2 separate regions of the Homo sapiens genome follow, and region 1 is linked to region 2. Evidence: fine-mapped expression QTL. A gene starts in region 2. The other region holds a variant in brackets. All regions are shown on one strand. Distances are from middle to middle. Region 1 has its middle 13 kb from the start of LINC02683. Region 2 holds the start of SPON1 (spondin 1).

Evidence for each region. PIP is the estimated chance that this variant, and not a neighbour inherited with it, causes the effect.
Region 1: its variant is fine-mapped to the expression of SPON1 in whole blood (TOPMed, PIP above 0.99). The same link has a PIP of 0.9 or more in blood mononuclear cells.

Annotation. Positions count from the first base shown.
Region 1 is chr11:13,935,687-13,940,064 of GRCh38, forward strand. No RefSeq gene overlaps it. Among named protein-coding and RNA genes, the nearest start is that of LINC02683, 13 kb to the left of the region's middle. RefSeq lists an enhancer at 2,902-3,403. The variant C/G (reference allele first, on the strand shown) is at 1,897.
Region 2 is chr11:13,960,854-13,965,231 of GRCh38, forward strand. It overlaps SPON1 (spondin 1), which reads left to right and starts at 1,870. Exons shown (of 16, transcript NM_006108.4): 1 at 1,870-2,289. The coding sequence starts at 2,052. LOC124902637 (a long non-coding RNA gene) reads left to right here and starts at 2,304. Exons shown (of 2, transcript XR_007062602.1): 1 at 2,304-4,192.

The sequences.
Region 1 (4,378 bases), 25 kb before region 2:
GTAGACTATTAATTATTGCCTCAATTTCAGATCCTGTTATTGGTCTATTCAGGGATTCAACTTCCTTCTGGTTTAGTCTTGGGAGGGTGTATGTGTCCAGGAATTTATCCATTTCTTCTAGATTTTCTAGTTTATTTGCATAGAGGTGTTTATATTATTCTCTGATGGCAGTTTGTATTTCTGTGGGATTGGTGGTGATATCCCCTTTATCATTTTTTATTGCATCTATTTGATTCTTCTCTCTTTTCTTCTTTATTAGTCTTGCTAGCAGTCTATCAATTTTGTTGATCTTTTCAAAAAACCAGCTCCTGGATTCATTGGTTTTTTGAAGGGTTTTTTGTGTCTCTGTCTCCTTCAGTTCTGCTCTGATCTTTGTTATTTCTTGCCTTCTGCTAGCTTTTGAATGTGTTTGCTCTTACTTCTCTAGTTCTTTTAATTGTGATGTTAGGGTGTCAATTTTAGATCTTTCCTGCTTTCTCTTGTGGGCATTTAGTGCTATAAATTTCCCTCTACACACTGCTTTGAATTTGTCCCAGAGATTCTGGTATGTTGTATATTTGTTCTCATTAGTTTCTTTGTTTTTTTTTTTTTTTTTTTTTTTTTTCTGAGGCAAAGTCTTGCTCTGTTGCCCAGGATGGAGTGCAGTGGCGCCATCTCGGCTCACTGCAAGCTCCGCCTCCCGGGTTCCCGCCATTCTCCTGCCTCAGCCTCCCGAGTAGCTGGGACTATAGGCGCCCGCCATCACGCCCGGCTCATTTTTTGTATTTTTAGTAGAGATAGGGTTTCACCGTGTTAGCCAGGATGGTCTCGATCTTCTGACCTCGTGATCCACCCACCTTGGCCTCCCAAAGTACTGGGATTACAGGCATGAGCCACCACGCCCAGCAGTTCTCATTAGTTTCAAAGAACACCTTTATTTCTGCCTTCATTTTGTTAGGTACCCAGTAGTCATTCAGGAGCAGGTTGTTCAGTTTCCATGTAGTTGAGTGGTTTTGAGTGAGTTTCTTAATCCTGAGTTCTAGTTTGATTGCACTATGGTCTGAGAGACAGTTTGTTATAATTTCTATTCTTCTACATTTGCTGAGGAGTGCTTTACTTCCAACTATGGTCAATTTTGAAACAAGTGCAATGTGGTGCTGAGAAGAATGTATATTCTGTTGATTTGGGGTGGAGAGTTCTGTAGATGTCTATTAGGTCCGCTTAGTGCAGAGCTGAGTTCAATTCCTGGATATCCTTGTTAACTTTCTGTCTCGTTGATCTGTCTAATGTTGACAGTGGGCTGTTAAAGTCTCCCATTATTATTGTGTGGGAGTCTAAGTCTCTTTGTGGGTCTCTAAGGACTTGCTTTATGAATCTGGGTCCTCCTGTATTGGGTGCATATATCTTTAGGATAGTTAGCTCTTCTGGTTGAATTGATCCCTTTACCATTATGTAATGGCCTTCTTTGTCTCTTTTGATCTTTGTTGGTTTAAAGTCTGTTTTATCAGAGACTAGGGTTGCAACCCCTGCCTTTTTTTGTTTTCCATTTGCTTGGTAGATCTTCCTCCATCCCTTTATTTTGAGCCTATGTGTGTCTCTGCATGTGAGACGGGTCTCCTGAATACAGCACACTGATGGGTCTTGACTCTTTATCCAATTTGCCTGTCTGTGTCTTTTAATTGGAGCATTTAGCCCATTTACATTTAATGTTAATATTGTTATATATGAATTTGATCCTGTCATTATGATGTTGGCTGGTTATTTTCCTCGTTAGTTGATGCGGTTTCTTCCTAGCCTCAATGGTCTTTACAATTTGGCATGTTTTTGCAGTGGCTGGTACGGGTTGTTCCTTTCCTTGTTTAGTGCTTCCTTCAGGAGCTCTTTTATGGCAGGCCTGGTGGTGACAAAATCTCTCAG[C/G]ATTTGCTTGTCTGTAAAGGATTTTATTTCTCCTTCACTTATGAAGCTTAGTTTGGCCAGATAGGAAATTCTGGGTTGAAAATTATTTTCTTTAAGAATTTTGAATATTGGCCCCCACTCTCTTCTGGCTTGTAGAGTTTCTGCTGAGAGATCTGCTGTTAGTCTGATGGGCTTCCCTTTGTGGGTAACCCGACCTTTCTCTCTGGTTGCCCTTAACATTTTTTCCTTCATTTCATCTTTGGTGAATCTGACAATTACGTGTCTTGGAGTTGCTCTTCTCGAGGAGTATCTTTGTGGCGTTCTCTGTATTTCCTGAATGTGAATGTTGGCCTGCCTTGCTAGATTGGGGAAGTTCTCCTGGATAATATCCTGCAGAGTGTTTTCCAACTTGGTTCCATTCTCCCCGTCACTTTCAGGTACACCAATCAGACGTAGATTTGGTCTTTTCACATAGTCCCATATTTCTTGGAGGCTTTGTTCATTTCTTTTTACTCTTTTTTCTCTAAACTTCTCTTCTTGCTTCATTTCATTCATTTGATCTTCCATCATTGATACCCTTTCTTCCAGTTGATTGAATCGGCTACTGAAGCTTGTGCATTCGTCACGTAGTTCTCATGCCATGATTTTCAGCTCTATCAGGTCATTTAAGGACTTCTCTACACTGGTTATTCTAGTTAGCCATTTGTCTAATCTTTTTTCAAGGTTTTTGGCTTCTTTGCGTTGGGTTCTAACTTCCTCCTTCAGCTTGGAGAAGTTTGATCATCTGAAGCCTTCTTCTCTCAACTCGTCAAAGTCATTCTCCATCCAGCTTTGTTCTGTTGCTGGTGAGGAGCTGTGTTTCTTTGGAGGGGGAGAGGCACTCTGATTTTTATAATTTTCAGATTTTCTGGTCTGTTTTTTCCCATCTTTGTGGTTTTATCTATCTTTGGTCTTTGATGATGGTGACGTACAGACGGGGTTTTGGTGTGGATGTCCTTTCTGTTTTGTTAGTTTTCCTAACTGTTAGGACCCTCAGCTGCAGGTCTGTTGGAGTTTGCTGGAGGTCCACTCCAGACCCTGTTTGCCTGGGTATCAGCAGCAGAGGCTGCAGAACACCGAATATTGCTGAACAGCAAATGTTGCTGTCTGATCCTTCCTCTGGAATCTTCATCTCAGAGGGGTGCCGAGCCATGTGAGGTGTCAGTCTGCCCCTACTGGGGCATGCCTTCCAGTTAGGCTACTCGGGGGTCAGGGACCCACTTGAGAAGGCAGTCTGTCCGTTGTCAGATCTCAAACTCCGTGCTGGGAGAACCACTAGTCTCTTCAAAGCTGGCAGACAGGGACATTTATGTCTGCAGAGGTTTCTGCTGCCTTTTTTTCAGCTATGCCCTGCCCCCAGAGGTGGAGTCTACAGAGGCAGGCAGGCCTCCTTGAGCTGCGGTGGGCTCCACCCAGTTCGAGCTTCCCTGCCGCTTTGTTTACCTACTCAAGCCTCAGCAATCGTGGGCGCCCCTCCCCCAGCCTTGCTACCGCCTTGCAGTTGGATTTCAGACTGCTGTTCTAGCAATGAGCAAGGCTCCGTGGGCATGGGACCCTCCATGCCAGGCACGGAATATAATCTCCTGGTGTTCCATTTGCTAAGACCATTGGAAAAGTGGTATTAGGGTGGGAGTGACCTGATTTTCCAGGTGCTGTCTGTCACAGTTTCCCTTGGCTAGGAAAGGGAATTCCCTGACCCCTTGTGCTTCCCGGGTGAGGTGATGTCTCGCCCTGCTTCAGCTCACACTCGGTGAGCTGCACCCACTGTCCTGCACCCACTGTCTGACAAGGCCCTGTGAGATGAACCCAGTACCTCAGTTGGAAATGCAGAAATCACCTGTCTTCTGCATCACTCATGCTGGGAGCTGTAGACTGGAGCTGTTCCTATTCGGCCATCTTGGAACCGCCCCCTCTCATTTTCATAATAAGGTTATAGATTCACCTGAAAGGGAATGCAAAAGGAAAGGGGAACACAAATCTGGAAAACTAGCATTTAACTTCACTAATGAGCAATTAAATGCAAATTAAAATCGAAATGGTATTAATTTAGGCAACAATTTTTACATGAGCAAACCCGAGTCCACAGGGAAGGGGGTTCTTTTTCCTGTGACAAGGTAAGTTGGTGCAGCCCTTTTGGCAGGGAACTTGCACTGTGTAATAACAGCTGCAAAAGGCAATTCCATTTAACAGTCATTTAATTCATTTAACACACAGCCATAGAGCTGCTTGAGAATTTTTCATAACGCCATGATGGAAATTACCTTCTTCTCATGGGAATTCCATTTAAGAAGGGGTCACATGGTACTATTTACTATTCTCCCAACTACCTGTCAATCTGGTATCTCTCCCATGGGGCTCACTGGGAGAAGCCAGCTTCTGCTACAGGGTCACATTAATTACCGTAGCCCTTAGGATCCTGTCTCCAGAGGACCCAGGTAGAGCTGGAGCCCAAGAACAGTCCCTT
Region 2 (4,378 bases):
GGCCTGTAAAATCCTCAAAGGCAAGTAACATATCTGTGTTTTGTATCCAAGCACTGAGCACGTGGAGGGTCTTTGTCATGAATGAATGGATGGATAGAAGGATGCATGGATGGATGGATGGATGAATTTTTGTTCCGTCTTCTACCTACCGGTCAGCACAGAGTCTAGCTCCAAATCTACACTTAATGAAAGTTTGCTGGATGAATGGGACCGTGCAACTTGGAGTGCAGCATGAGCTCTGAGCCAGTCGAGTGAAGATGCAGACAATTCCCTCAGCACTCAGACATGGATCTGAGCCTCACCTCAAAAAGGAGGGCCGATCAGCTGGATCAGGTGCTGCTAGGGTCAAGAAGGGCTAGGGATGAGAGAAGAGCATAATTGGCTTCAGCAAGGGGTTACTTTCAGGTGACCTCTGAGAGAAGGCGTCCAGTTAATAGTGGCAGTGGGAATTCCAGCACAAGCACTAAGGAGTAAGTGGGCAGGCAGGGAGGAATGGAGATCTCCCATGCACCTAGCGCCCTGGGCCTGTTTGTAGCATTATGAAAGAGAAAACCCTGACCTGGAAAGCAAAGGAGATTGCTTGCTAATTGTAGGCACTTGAGGTGTGTCGAAGGCCCTGGGCAAAGAGAAGACGAGGAAACCAAAGCTTCTGAGGGCACCTGGGGAGGGATGTTTGTGTGCACTGAGAGGCAGGGGGCTTATGGTATCCCCAAGCGGGTGAGGGAGCAGGCGCCACTAGAGACCAACTAGAGTGTTTTATATGGGTCATATCATTTACTTCTAGCATATCACCCCACTACCTCTAAGAAGGATGTACTGGCACCCACCCCCACTTCCTTGTTCTCCAGAGCAGGAAACAAGCTTGGAGAGTGCGATAACTAGCCCAAGCTTCACAATGGGTGAGTGGCAGGACTGAGGTTTGATTCGGGTCTCTTCCCAGAGAGACACTGGGAGAGATTCTTGCCCCAGGTCTTTTCCCTTCAGGCCCTCAGGCTCAGCACCTCTCTGAACATCTGTCCCTGGGGAGTGAGAATCTGAACTAAAATGTAAGCCAAGAAAACACAGGCTCTTCATTGAATCTTTGGAAACTCCTTTCCTGGGCTGTAGGAGGACCTTCCTGAGCCTTAGGCACTTTTGCCTTTGCTGGCTCTTTCCTCCAAGTCAAGCATATTTTATGACTGTGGAGGTATAAATACAAATATATTAACATTATATAGTAAAACATTTTGTTTGACATAAATTTTTTCTTCTGATTTTTACAGAAAACATTTTCATAGATCTCCAAAAGTATCGTGGGCCCTAAGCGCTGTAGCTAAGTCGTTTCTCCTTTCTCAGCCTCCAGTCTGACATGTTCCACTATGGCCTTGGGAAGAGCAATGGGCCCGGAGTCGCCGCATCTAACCCTGCTGTAACTGGTCGCAAGTCACAGTTTGCTCATCTATAAAGTGAGCGAAAGTAATGTAATCTTTATTGGGAGTAGGGAACATGAAGGCGAGTCGATACAGTAAGTAAGCCGCCAAGCATATTGCTAGGCACAGAGCAGGTGTGCAACAAAAGTTATTTCTCAGGCTTTCCCTCCTCTGAGCGCCGTCCTCCAGAGGGTCCGGAGTGTAGCTGGGGGTTGGAGCAGCAGCCTCCTAGGCGATGGGACAGAGCCCACAGGGTCCGGTATGCCACGGTTTCTTCGTCAGACCCTGGGAATCCAACGTCGCAAAATAAACACGGCCGCGCCGCTAATCGCCAGTTCGGAGGAAACAAAACAGCGCTGCGCTGGGGGATCTGGGCAAAATCAGCCCTCCCTCCTCCCGCTCCTTCGCCGCGGCCCTCCCCTCCTCGCGCTGCTCTCGTTCGCTTGGCTCAGCTCAGCTCAGCTCAGCGCAGCTCCGCGGCCGCCAAGCCGAGGCGGGCACGGTCTCCGAGTCGCGGACGCCAGCTCCGAGCTCCCTCTCTCCGCCGCGCCTCCGCCAGGTCGCGCCTTCGTCGGGACCACTTCGGGCAGGAGTCGCGTGGCGAAGGCCTGCGGCCGCGGCACAAAGTTGGGGGCCGCGAAGATGAGGCTGTCCCCGGCGCCCCTGAAGCTGAGCCGGACTCCGGCACTGCTGGCCCTGGCGCTGCCCCTGGCCGCGGCGCTGGCCTTCTCCGACGAGACCCTGGACAAAGTGCCCAAGTCAGAGGGCTACTGCAGCCGTATCCTGCGCGCCCAGGGCACGCGGCGCGAGGGCTACACCGAGTTCAGCCTCCGCGTGGAGGGCGACCCCGACTTCTACAAGCCGGGAACCAGCTACCGCGGTAAGTGGCCGCCCGGCGTGGCATTAGGAGAGCGGGACCCGGTCCCCGGAGGGCGCCGACCTCGCGGTGCCGGAGGAGGGCGCGCGGTCTCCGGGCGCGTGGCGCGGGTGCAGCCCGGCAAGGGCCCTTCTGTCCTGGCTGCCCTCGGCCCTTGCAGTCGCGAGCTCGGCGCGGATCATAATCCAGCGTCCCGGGCCGTCGCGGGGGCCGCAGCCAGGAGAGGCACCCCGCGTTTCCGACGCGCGGTTCCCAGGCGGAGGATGTAACTGAGCCACACGTCACGCCGGCCTGACTGCAAGGGAGGCTCGCTTCTCCCCCGGCCGTCTGCAGGAGGGAAGTAAAACTGCCTTTCTCCAAATCGGTCTGGAGGGGACCCAGGCTTCTCTTGGTCGGGTCCCGGGCAAGGCAGCCACTCCAGCTTTCCCCGCTCAGTCCCTGAAGGAGAGGGTACCCGATTCTCAAAGACTGGCCCTGGGCGGGACAGCCACTCCGGCTTCCCTGGATAGGTCCCTTCAGGAGAAGGGACTTTGGCTTCTCCCTAACCGGTCCCGGGGTGCGGGAAGGAGGGGCAGGGACAGCCTAAAGCTCCTCGAAAGGGTCCTTGGAAAGAACCCCAAATTATTCTCTCGTGGTCCCAGACGAGATAGAGTATCTTGGGTTTCCAGAACAGGTTCCCAGTGGGGACAGGGTCCTCAAAGAGCTTGGGGTAAGCTCCGAGCTGCAAGGGGAATTGGATGAAGATGGAAAGAGAAGCCCCGATGCCCGAGGCCTGCTCCCTGGAGGCCGGGGAACCTTGGCTCCGGCAGCTCGGAGTCTCCACGTCCCAGGGATGTCGCGCCTACGCCGCTCGGCTGAGAGTGGGGTTTCGGGAGCTCAGGGAGGAGGTGTCCAAGCAGGTGAGAGCCTCCTAGGCGGGACAGGCAGTTCGACCAGCACCGATCTGAAGACGCCTGACTCTGTCCCCACGCCCGCCACCTCGCTCCTCAGCAGGGTCATCTCCCCAGACATCGTTTCCCCGTGCAGCAGCAGCCGCTCTCCGGGTGGGGGACAGGTAACCAGGAAGGGAAGCGAGCCTGTCTGGCCTCACCTTAGCTCCCGCCAGGGAGCGTGTCCTCTCACCCTCGCCCCTTCATAAGTCAGCTCTGGTGCTAAGCAGGGATGAGCGGGTCACTGGGGCACCTGGTGGGGCAAATGGGCTCCCAGCTGCTGTACTTTCCTCCTCGCCTTCCCAGTTCCCCAGAGAGCCTTGGACGGAAGCGGTGGGAGCAACACAGGAGAAAGTCTGGGGCAGCGTCAGCGGGCGCCAGGGTCACGCCGGAGACCAAAGCCAGGGGCCACCCTTCTTGGAGCGCTTTTCCCCCTTTCCCGGGTTTGTGTCCCCGACTTTCTCCACCCGGAGCTACCCAAAGCCGGCTCCTTGGTGCCCTTGGCACCTTGGCGTGCTGAGCACTTTGCGAGGAACAGTCTGACCCCGGCGCGCAGCTCCGCGGGATCCTGGGTACTCCACGAAGAAAGATTCTGGGCGGAGAACACCCCGCCCAGCCCGGGAGGGAGCGCGCGGCTTGGCACCGCGGCTAGAGCGAGCCGCGCCGACGGGCGGCGACTGCCACTCGGTGCAGCCGGGAGGCGGCCGATCCTCCCTGTGGACCGCAGGGAAGCGGGTATGACTTCAGTGGCCTATTCGGCCCTCCCCAAAACTGAGGACCTGAGTTCACAGGGGAAACTGTCCCCGCTCCACGTAGCAGAGAAAGAAGTGGCTCTGGAGTCCAACAGACTTGGGTTTACTCGCTGTGTGACCTTGTGCAAGTCATTTAATTTCTCTGCACCTATTTCCTAGCTGGAAAAAAAAAAAAGCTGTTTATCCACCCTCTCTTGGTGGTAGGGAGTAAATGAGTTTACAAAGGTGAGTGTGCCTGAGCTAAAAGAGATTCCTAATAAGCCTAACAGTTGAATGTGAGGCCTTTATTGGTTTACTAATGGAGGTAGGTTCTTGATCAGATTTTTGTTTTTGAAGAGTGTTGTGCGTTTGAAAGCAGGTTTCCTCAGCTCTCCTCCAGTCCCATTCATCTACCAGTGGTTATTTGGGTCC